Regions from separate parts of the Homo sapiens genome. Here region 2 is linked to region 1. The links come from fine-mapping of genetic effects on gene expression. A gene starts in region 1. The other region holds a variant in brackets. All regions are shown on one strand. Distances are between the middles of the regions.

Evidence for each region. PIP is the estimated chance that this variant, and not a neighbour inherited with it, causes the effect.
Region 2: its variant is fine-mapped to the expression of ADRA1A in stomach (GTEx, PIP above 0.99). The same link has a PIP of 0.9 or more in ileum, lung and transverse colon.

Annotation. Positions count from the first base shown.
Region 1 is chr8:26,864,986-26,870,364 of GRCh38, reverse strand. ADRA1A (adrenoceptor alpha 1A) reads left to right here and starts at 3,087. Exons shown (of 3, transcript NM_000680.4): 1 at 3,087-3,429; 2 at 4,710-5,379. RefSeq lists an enhancer at 3,866-4,817.
Region 2 is chr8:26,691,357-26,696,735 of GRCh38, reverse strand. No RefSeq gene overlaps it. Among named protein-coding and RNA genes, the nearest start is that of ADRA1A, 170 kb to the left of the region's middle. The variant T/G (reference allele first, on the strand shown) is at 2,837.

The DNA of each region.
Region 1 (5,379 bases):
TGACTTGATACTGCATCAATACCTTTCTGAGAATTGTTTTTCATTTTCTTGCCTCTTTAACTTATTAAGCCTTAGGAGAATTAGTTGAAAAGCCAAGTCTTTGGGGTAGATACTAACATTAAGTCTTCTACTCTGTCATTTGCAATCATAAATTCCAGAACACAGCTCCTAATTCCATTGTGTATTGTTTTCTAAGGGAATGATAGACAGATTCTTTATTTTTTTAAACCTCTAAGCCTACCACACTTGCCGAGTTCCTCACTAGTCACTAAGAAAGTCCTGCCAATCAATGCATGGGTTTATGTCCATTGCTCAGCTCTTCTCCAATCAGACTCATTCCCCCAGCATCCCTGACACACCACTCTAAAATGCGGCTGCTGATGGTTCACCTTCCTCACTTTTGTCTACAAATCTCAATCCTGCTGATTCCACAAATCCTACATCAAGCAATATCATTTTATGAGTCTTTCCACAACCACCCCTTCAGGGGATTCTTCAATTTCTGTCACACCGGAAGTCTTCAGAGTATCACCCTCAGAGCCAGGCAAGAGGGACCCCGGCTAGGGTTTCAGGCTTTAGAGAGTCCAGCTCTGACTCCTTTTGGCCATAGGACTAATGTGATATGCCCACCTGGAGCCTGTGCCCTCCTTTCTAGACCATGCCCTGGGACTCAGAATCCCTTGCCCCAGATGGCCACACAATCACTTTCAGGTCCATTCTCTCTGGGCAGACAACATCACAAATGTGTGTACCCCAAGGCCTGAGGCCAAGAAGGCAGCTTTCTGGCTGTAGGGGCTGAGGTGTTCACACACATTTGCATGGCCCCTCAAGACAAAGAACAAGGGGGAAAGTGAGAAGAAAAGAAGCAGCCAGTGATCAGGGCCAGCTCTTGCAACTTAACCATGTTGGGTCATTCTGATTAAACCACTTAGCTCAAGTGTAGTGCTCAAGACACTTAGCACATTCTCCAGCTGAATTTACCAGTGTTCATGGACTACCTGGGTTAGAAATATATTTCACTATAAAGTAGCATACAAAATGAGCAGAAAGGGAGTTAATAAGATTAATAATAGAGTTAGTGAATATTATGAGCTGAGTTTTTGAGAAACGTAATTTCTTTCAACACTAATAACAACCTTGTGGGGGTTCATTGTCTCCCTTTAAAAATTAGGAAACCAAGGCTTTGCCATGGTCGCATAGGAGGGTCAGAATAGCATCTTTATGACCCCAGAGCATACTCCTCTCCACTCCACCTACCCATGTGTACAACTCAGACACTTTCTGGGATGTCCACGTCAACTATTCTTTAAAGAGTAACCAACAGATGGATAGTTTTCTGTTTGTGAATCAATGGTAGGTGACTGAAAAATTGGTTCTGAGAGGTCGTTTTGCAAGGATTGATGGTCACAGGCTGAGAAGCAGATTTGAAAGACCTACCTGCTAGCAGCATGAAGAGCTGCTCTTCCTTATCTTAGTATTAACTAGTTAATTATTGGAGGTGGGTGCAGGGGTGGATTATGTGTATTCTTAATTGTTGTAGAGTGGGGACTGGGAGTTACAAAGACTTTTGCAATTTTCGACCTTGCAGAGCTGAGCAATTTTCAGTTGCTTTGCTTGCTGATAGCACTGCTTCCCTTATCTACCATGGAACACATCTTAATGAAGAATTTGCATTCACAGCATCAGGTTAATGAATACAAAACAAAACAGTGTATATCCCTCTGATGGATGGGATTTCGGAAGCACAGACATTATACACATATTTGATGATAAAGTACTAGAAGTGCAGGGAATTGAGGTCAAGCTTCCTCCTAAGGGGACTGAATCCCAGAGAGAGCAGGTGACTTAGTAATGAGAAGTGGAGCTGTCTGTTCAACCAGGATGCTCCTCCTATGGCACGAAATTCAGTTTTAAAAATATATTAAATTCAAATCAAATGTGTTAGGTGTGAGTTCTATCCCTACAGGTATGAGGCAGAGGTGGAGGACTTTGTATACAATAGAGAAATAAATACATATATTAGGTCTTCCATGACATAGGATTTACTGACCCTCTCATGGGCATTCCTCTGAGGCATTTTGAGATTTATTGCTATAAAAGAGCCTCCCAAACATTATCTCACTTAGAAAAGGTAATCATATTAATATGATTTTGTTCACAGGAGAGAATTTAAGTGCCACTGCTTAAAGTTATCTCCTTGTTCCTAGGTTTAAGGAGACCTAGTAAATAAGAACATTCCACTTTGTCTGCATCAATAAAGATGAAAGATGACTTAGGAGGTGGGAATTGGAGTGGGAAACATTTTTCTATGTTCCCGATATTCTGAAACACATGTGACTTTATTCAATCACAAGGTAAACAGATTATGTAATTTACCAGAAAAAAAGTAATAAGACTGGTGGTGCTAGGTTTTCATACTCCAGCTATTAATGAATTAAAGAGAGTAACACTCCTGAAAGGATACCATTTTCTCAAGAAAACTGGAAAAGATTGTGTGGCATTTAAAAAATACCAAACTCTGTGGCCATAATGCTCTTAAAATTCATCTGTCTAAAGAAATTAGAAGTGAATCATATTAAATAAGGTTTAGATATGTCCACTTTATCTTCCTGAAAATATAATTTCATTACAATCAGATTTGTCATATTTTATCTGATTTTACTTGCTATTTAAAACACCTTATAATTTACTTGCATATTTAGAATTACAATATTCTTAATATACTTCTTGATCTTAACAAAACCTAGGCCAAATGTTAATCAAATCAAGCTGTTCAAAGTTACTTTATAGCACATTCCTATGAACACACCATACACACAGCAATATCTAGCAAGGGTGTCAATTTTTCGTTATTTTTAAAAGCTCATTTAAAGAAGTTATTTACTACAAATGACTCTACACACACACACGCGCGCGCGCGCGCGCACACACACACACACACACACACAAACCTTTTTAAAGAAACGCTAGAACCCAACCCCCTCTAGGCCAGAGGAAAACATTACAGCTGTATACGCACTTGTGCCTGTTGCCGTAGAGTAATACGGTAGCAGCAGGAGATTACGGTACTAGCTGGGCTACTGCCTGAGTTACGTCAGCGAGAGCTGCAAAGTTCCTTGCTATTCTTTTCTGGTGTCGGGGAGCTGAATATTAAAAGGGTGATTGTGGAGTTACCGGTTATCTGCATTTTTTTTTCTTTTCTTATTTTGACTCTTTTTAAAAAATGCAGGTAAAGTGACAGCGGTTCAGGAGCTTAAAGACATCAGTGGTGGAGGGGTGAGTCAGCGGGTGCAAAAGGACAAGGATTTGGTGCCTCGGAGACACGGTCCCCTCTCCGCCTCCAGAGAAGAGCAGGCAGGCAGCTCCCGGGACCGAAGCCGGGTCCACATCCCCCGCGCGCGAGCTGGTGGCTCAGCAGCGGCGCTTCAGGTGAGTGCGCCGGGGCCGGCGTCCCGCAGGGCCGAGTGGGTGAGGGCAGACCTCCCCCGCCGTCTGGTGAGACGGAACCCCCACTTTTCCCAGCGCCTCCCGCTTTTTCCACCAGGTTTTATACCGGCCCCTCTACCCCACCCCCGATTCCCTTACATCTTCTGCGAAGTTGCCTTCTACTGAACAAGTGTCTTTTTAACCCTGTGTTTATCACCCTCGAGGTAGGAGGAAAAGGGTTTCTGCAGTGGCACGTTTTTAATACCACCTGTGAGGTCTCCAACTTGCGATTTTAACAAGAGTCTTTGCCCGAGGTCCCACCTCAGGGCCCAACCCCAGAAGGCAAGGTGGGCACTTCCTCACGCCGCGCTGTCCTGCCGAGTCCCTGCGGTAGGTTCGCAGTTGTGGAAACCCAGGTTTCTTACGCAGATGGTGGCCCCCAGCCCAGAAAATCGAAGGCGGCCCCTGCCCGCTGGCATGCCGGCTTAATGTTTACGCCTGCAAAATCCGCAGTGACTGTCACTTGCAAAGCTCCCTCTGCAGAGGGACGTCCTCCCCACCCCGTCCCCCGCCAGTCCCGCTACGGCTGGCAGCTGGAGCCCCTCGGGTGGCCAACAGTGAGGCTTGGAAAGGCGTCGTGGACAGACCTGGGTCGCTTTCTGTCTTCGGGTCCCTCCCGGCTTCGCTCGGGACCTGGCTCTCAAGCCAGCTTGGCTGGTGGACAGACCGGTGCGCTCTGCACACCCGAGTGCGAATTCCACCGGCGTGAGAGTGAGCGTGCTCGTGGTCCTGGCCCTGAGGTCCCTGGGTCGCAGCTGTTCCCTCTCCCAGGCCGCCCCCTCCAGGTGACTGCGAGGCAACCTGTTCTAACGGAAACCGAGTACATCCTCCAGAATTCCCCGGCTAGGATCCGTGCGACACACTCGCCAGCCGCAGTCGCCCCTCCGGGGCTTCGAGGATTTTAATTTCGTGGTACCTGCGCTCGAAATCCAGACTTCGAGCGCTGGAGCCTGGGGTTTTGGGGATTTGTTTTTTTGTTTGTTTTTCGCTTCGGATCCTGAACTCGGGCAGAGGTGACTCAGTAGAGTGCGCTAGGCAGGTTCCCAGTGGTGGGGGCGCGAGATGAGCTCCGAAGTCGCCTCCACCGCTGCCGGGCGAAGCAGCTTCTGGACCGCAGAACCAACCCGGCTCCCAACTGGTGTCCCCCAACCCGTCAAGCTCAGCACAGCCTCTTTCCCTGGGGCGCCTAGCTCAAAGCCGCCTTTCTCTTTGCGCTCTTTCAGGTGGACGCGGTCAAACGATGCCCCGCAGCCTCCTGGGTCTCAGCACATATTCCACACCTACGTCCCCTGACCTGTGCTCCTAGAAGCTGGAGAGAGCAGGAGCCTTCGGTGGGGCAGCTCAAAATGTAGGTAACTGCGGGCCAGGAGCAGCGCCCAACCTGTAGCGCTGCGCTACCCAACCATCGGTCCCTGCCTTTGAGCGTCGACGGCTGATCTTTTGGTTTGAGGGAGAGACTGGCGCTGGAGTTTTGAATTCCGAATCATGTGCAGAATGCTGAATCTTCCCCCAGCCAGGACGAATAAGACAGCGCGGAAAAGCAGATTCTCGTAATTCTGGAATTGCATGTTGCAAGGAGTCTCCTGGATCTTCGCACCCAGCTTCGGGTAGGGAGGGAGTCCGGGTCCCGGGCTAGGCCAGCCCGGCAGGTGGAGAGGGTCCCCGGCAGCCCCGCGCGCCCCTGGCCATGTCTTTAATGCCCTGCCCCTTCATGTGGCCTTCTGAGGGTTCCCAGGGCTGGCCAGGGTTGTTTCCCACCCGCGCGCGCGCTCTCACCCCCAGCCAAACCCACCTGGCAGGGCTCCCTCCAGCCGAGACCTTTTGATTCCCGGCTCCCGCGCTCCCGCCTCCGCGCCAGCCCGGGAGGTGGCCCTGGACAGCCGGACCTCGCCC
Region 2 (5,379 bases), 170 kb after region 1:
CAGGCCCAGTAGGTACAAGGACATCCCTACTATCACTTCTCCATGTCCCGGATGCACAGAGTCACCACACTCAATGTGGTATGAGGAATGCCCACGTTGGCTCTCTGATCCCTACGATGAGCACTACTTTCTATCTTAGCAGAAAGGCCTTGGAACATCCCCTCTGCTAGGATAGAAACCCAGAGCTTTACTATATCCCTAGGAGAATCTGCAGAAATTAAGGCCACCATCAAAGACTCGAAGGAAGAAGTGGTGATACTTATCACTTTGCTCATTTTACAGATCTGTTGAGTCTGTCAGGAGCAGATGGATCTTGGAGAACATGGATTATTGTAAACCTAAGCAGATGCTGCCTTCTCTTGCAGCTGCTGCTCCAGATGCCAACACTTTCCTGGAGCAAATCAGCACAACTCATTGCATCTGGTGTGTAGCACCCAATGTGCCAGGTGCTTAGTTCTCTTTCCACCCATTTCCAAGGAGCATCAGAAGCCATTTGTTTTAACTGGCAGAATCAACAGTACACTTTCAAGTTTTTGGGTTTTTTTTTTTTTTTTTTTTTTGCCTCAGAGTAGAGATCTTAACAGTCTTTACATCCTACAAAAATCATACTGGTCCACTATATTGGCAGTGTTATGCAGATGAGACCTGATGCACAGGAAATAGTGACTTCCTTAGATACCATAGGAAGAAGACACATGCAGGCTGGAGGATGGGAGATGAGTCCTGAGTCCAAACAGAGCATATTGGGGTATCCTATTCAAAGTGAAAATTGTTGTACCTTTCTCCTCTTATCACTGAAAACAAGTTGCTGCTACCTGGTGGGTCTCCTTTTTTAATTTTGGAGGAAACATATCACATTAAATGTGCTATTTTGACCCGTTTACCCATTAGGCTTCCAGTATTGAACAGGGACCAGAGGCGAGAAGGTGTCTGCAGCAGGTTCAGCCTTCAGAGAAAACCGCACTGTCACTTGGGCCTTATGACCCAGAATATCCACAATGCTTGAAGTTTCTATGGAAACTAGCAATGCAGCGTGAAGCCTCTGACAGCTGCAGCAGGGCAATTGTCATGCAGGGATCTAAGGTTTAGGAGCAAAGCCTTGCCCTCTTCTTCAGGTAATTATTCTCCTTTTGAGAAGTGGCTCCTGCCTTGCAACACACCTGATAGGGACTGAATACCTGACCATGGGACATCATATGGTTATGTGGCCTGAGCGTCTCATCACAAATGGGGTGCTGTCTGACACAGTGACTCATAAAGCAGGGGATGTACAGGACCAGAGCTGGACACTTCCAGGTAGAAATGGCTAATGAATGAAGCTCAAGCAGGTGCAGAAAGCACAGGTGACCTGCATGAGCATCTATCTCGGACTCCCTGACAGCTGCTTCTGTTCTTGCATCTTCTCCCTCAGTCCACTCCTACAACCTCATGAGGAATTCCTTCCGACTCATTGATTGAGGAGGGAGGAAGGCTCTGACCTTTCTTACATCTAGCTCTGCGCAATATGGGAACTGGACTGCTGCTTATTGTAGCCCAATCAGGAGTGCCCCAAAAGACAGAAGGAGGAACTTCAATCAGTACATCTGTTGTCCTCTTAGAAGAGGTAGCCAAAGGTACAGTTACACTGACTCATGGGGAGTGGCTAGTGGTTTGGCAGTTTGTTAGGGACTTGGAGAGAACAAGATTGGAAAATTAATGACAAGGGCATCTGTGGCTGGATCTCTGAGAATAAGCAGAGGTAGTGGAGATATGCATGCCCCGTATGAATGCTCACTCTAGGACATCCACTGCAGTGGAGGCTCTTAATAACTAGGTGGATATGAGCTGACCCCCTTCCCAGCAACCCAGTTCTTGCTCTGTACACACGACCTCTGACTTATGACGGTTTGACTTAGGATTTTTCGACTTTATGATGGTGCACAAGTGACAGGTATTCAGTAGAAACTGTATTCCAAGTGCCCATATAACCCTTCTGTTTTTCACTTTTACCACAGTATTCAGTAAGTTACATGAAAAAAATAAAGTTAAAAAGAAAGTTACACTTTATTATAAAGTAGGCTTTGTGTTAGATGGTTTTGCCCAGCTGCAGGCTAATGTAAGTGTTCTGAGCGTGTTTAAGGCAGGCTAGGCTGAGCTGTGATGTTCAGTAGGTTATGTATATTAAATGCATGTTTAATGGAGTGCCACCGCAATGGAGTGCCATGTTTTTTTTTTATGCTACAGAAAAAAGGCACAGACCTTATATCTTTCACAAAAATTAACTCAAAGTGGATTATAGACCCAAATATAAATGCAAAACTATAAAATTCCTAGAACGTAGCATCAGAAGAAAACATGGCACTCCATTGCGGTGGCAGCAGTTACTACAGCGTCTACCTTCTTTCCAGACTTCCAGAGCCAGCCTCATGTGCCACCTCAGAGACACCAGCAGCTGCTGGGCAGGACCCCCTTCTCAAAGATCTGAGCCCCAGCTGCACAGAGACCCTCCACCAAGCTCTGTGTTTCGATCATCTCACCTCTTCCCTTCATGGCTTTCTGCTGTTTCAATTCTCCAGCCCCTGTTAGGGCAATTCCCTGTATTAAATTTTCTCTGTTAAAACAACTAGTTTAGCTTCTGTTTCCCTGACTGGATCCTCACAGATATTGAAGCAAAATTTATTTATAAGCATGCAACTAAGAAACAGCCAGCGATATGCAAAATGAGGACATCTGTTTTGGTGTGGCAAGTTCATGGCTGCTTGTTTATCTCTCTTCAAATATTTCTAAAGTCCTGTAGTGATGCAGTTTTGTAAGTCCACTTCCTTTTCAGAGGACAGCATGTACCCAGGGCAGGCTG[T/G]GTACGACTCCTGTGTATAATGATGGGTAAGGAGACCAATTTATGTAACTTCACTGGTAATTGCCAGATGGGAGGAGAGAGAAGGCAAGGGCTAGAAGAAAAGGTAAATAGCACACAGAGAAGATGCTATCTAATGGATAGAAAGAAAAAGTGTTTTCTGGTAACAGAAAAACAACCCCACGGTTCAAAGAGAGCACAACCTTTTATTGTATTAAAAGTTGTTTTTCTTTCCCTGCCGTATGGAAGTAGATGGGATACACAAGCAAACAGGGATACCCAGGCGGAACAGGCTGTGCGTCCAGGAGCATTCTGCAAGGGAGACAGATCTCACCTGCCCCTTCCTAGGAGCGGGGATACAAGCATTGGTGTCCTCTGTTGGCCAAGACTGTGAAAATGCAGCTCCCTAAGTGTTATAGGCTAAATTGTGACCCCTCCACTCCCCTCACCAAAAAATTCATATGTTGAAGTCCTAACCCCCAGTACTTCAGAATGTGATTCTATTTGAAGATCAAGTCTTTAGATATATAATTAGGTTAAAATAGGGTTATTCAGATGGAACCTAATCCAATATGGCAGACGTCCTTAAAAGGAGCGATTAAGACACAGACATGCACAGAAGGATGACCTCGTGAGGACACGGGGAGATGGTGGCCATCTGTAAAGCAAAGAGAGAGGCCTCAGGAGAAACCAGCCCTGCTGGCACCTTGATCTCAGACTTCCAGCCTCCAGAACTGTGACAAAACAAATGTCTGTTGTTTAAGCCACCCAGTCTGTGGTACTTTATTATAGCAGTCTGAGCAAACTCATATTCTGAGTCCCTGATTACTTTGGCCACAGCCCCTCCTGCTACAACCCCACTCCAGAAAAAAAAAAAAAAAAAAAAGAACGCATACTTTGTTTCTAGATAAGGCTGTGTCCCCAAATCCCCATCGGGTCTCCTGTCCTGCTGAACTGGGCTGGACAAAAGCACCCACTGCAAGGACTTGGCCCCAGGTCGTCTCAAGTCCAAGGTTATTTCCAAGAATAAGGACCACAGGACAGTTGGCATACAGGGAAATCAGGCAGATAGGGTTTCAGTCCTAACCACAGCACTCATTGCATGAGAGGGCAAATCAATCCCTTACAGGCACTTCCCGAAAAAAAGCCCTAACTCCCAGTCTGGCTGTATTTGGAGAAGGGGCATCTAGGGAAGTAATTAAGGTTAAATGAGATTAAGTGAGGGCTGGGGTAGAGGAGGCCTGATCTGATAGGATTATTGCCCTTCAAGCCTTCAGAAATAGAATCAGCCAGAACATTGATCTCAGACTTCCCAGCCTCCAGAACTGTGGGAAAATACACTCTTTGTTGTCGAAGCTCCCAGTCTATAGTAGCTTGGGATGGCAACCAGAGCTGACTCATGCACCTACGGGGGTAAATATATAGGGGATTAAATAAAACACACCTGAACCAGCTCCCGGTATTCAGTGTATACTAGTGATGATTATTTTAAAATCTAAGACTAGTGGATACAAATGAAAGGTGACTTTATTTTCTAGGGTTTGGAGTTACCCAAAATGGAAGGAAATGCCTTGTAGGTATGACAGGTGGGCACCGCGAAGATCTCAGGCATAGGCCAGAGAATCTATGGGAGGGTGTTGTCACAGAGACAACTCAGGCATCAAAAAGAGATTGGAGAACGTGTGTTTTAAACTCCCTTTCAATCCCTACAACTTTTGAAAGTATGCACTGAGGCTGGGCATGGTGGATCATGCCTGTCATCCCGCCATTTTGGGATGCCGAGGCAGGCAGATCACCTGAGGTCGGGAATTCAAGGCCAGCCTGGCCAATATAGTGAAACCCCGTCTCTACTAAAAATACAAAAATTAGCTGGGCATAGAGGTGCGTGCCTGTAATCCCAGCTACTCAGGAGGCTGAAGAAGGAGAATCACTTGAAACTGGGAAGCAGAGGTTTCAGTGAGCTGAGATGGCGCCACTGCGCTCCAGCCTGGGCGACAGAGTGAAACTCTGTCTCAAAAACAAAAAGCAAAAAAAGAAAGAAAGAAAGTATGCACTGGGATTTTAAAGTCTCTCCAAGCTGCCTTAATGTTCATTTTCTCTGGATAATATATCTTCAGACCTATAAATTAATGGTCAGTGCTATAAACAATTATCAGAAAAGGTATATTTGTTGAACTATCCTTATTTTATTTTGATTTGTATGCTTGCAGCATTGCAAATTCTACTCTTTCAGCTCCTTCACGTTCCTTTACTATTGTTGGAGCAGATTTTTCACAGACTGCCTCCTGCCTGGTGATACAATAAAGTCACACACATACACACACACACACACACACAGAGAGAGAGAGAGAGAGAGAGAGAGAGAGAGAGAGAGAGAGACAGGGAGAGAGCGAGGCCAACAATAGCTACTCCGCGGCTTCCTTCAACAGTCTCCAACACAGTAAGGCAGCCCTTCCAAATCCCACCCTTTTTGGCTTATCATGGGAAATTCCTTCCCCACCTGAGGCACTGCACAGGCGTGGAGGGTTGATTTATTAACAACTGGG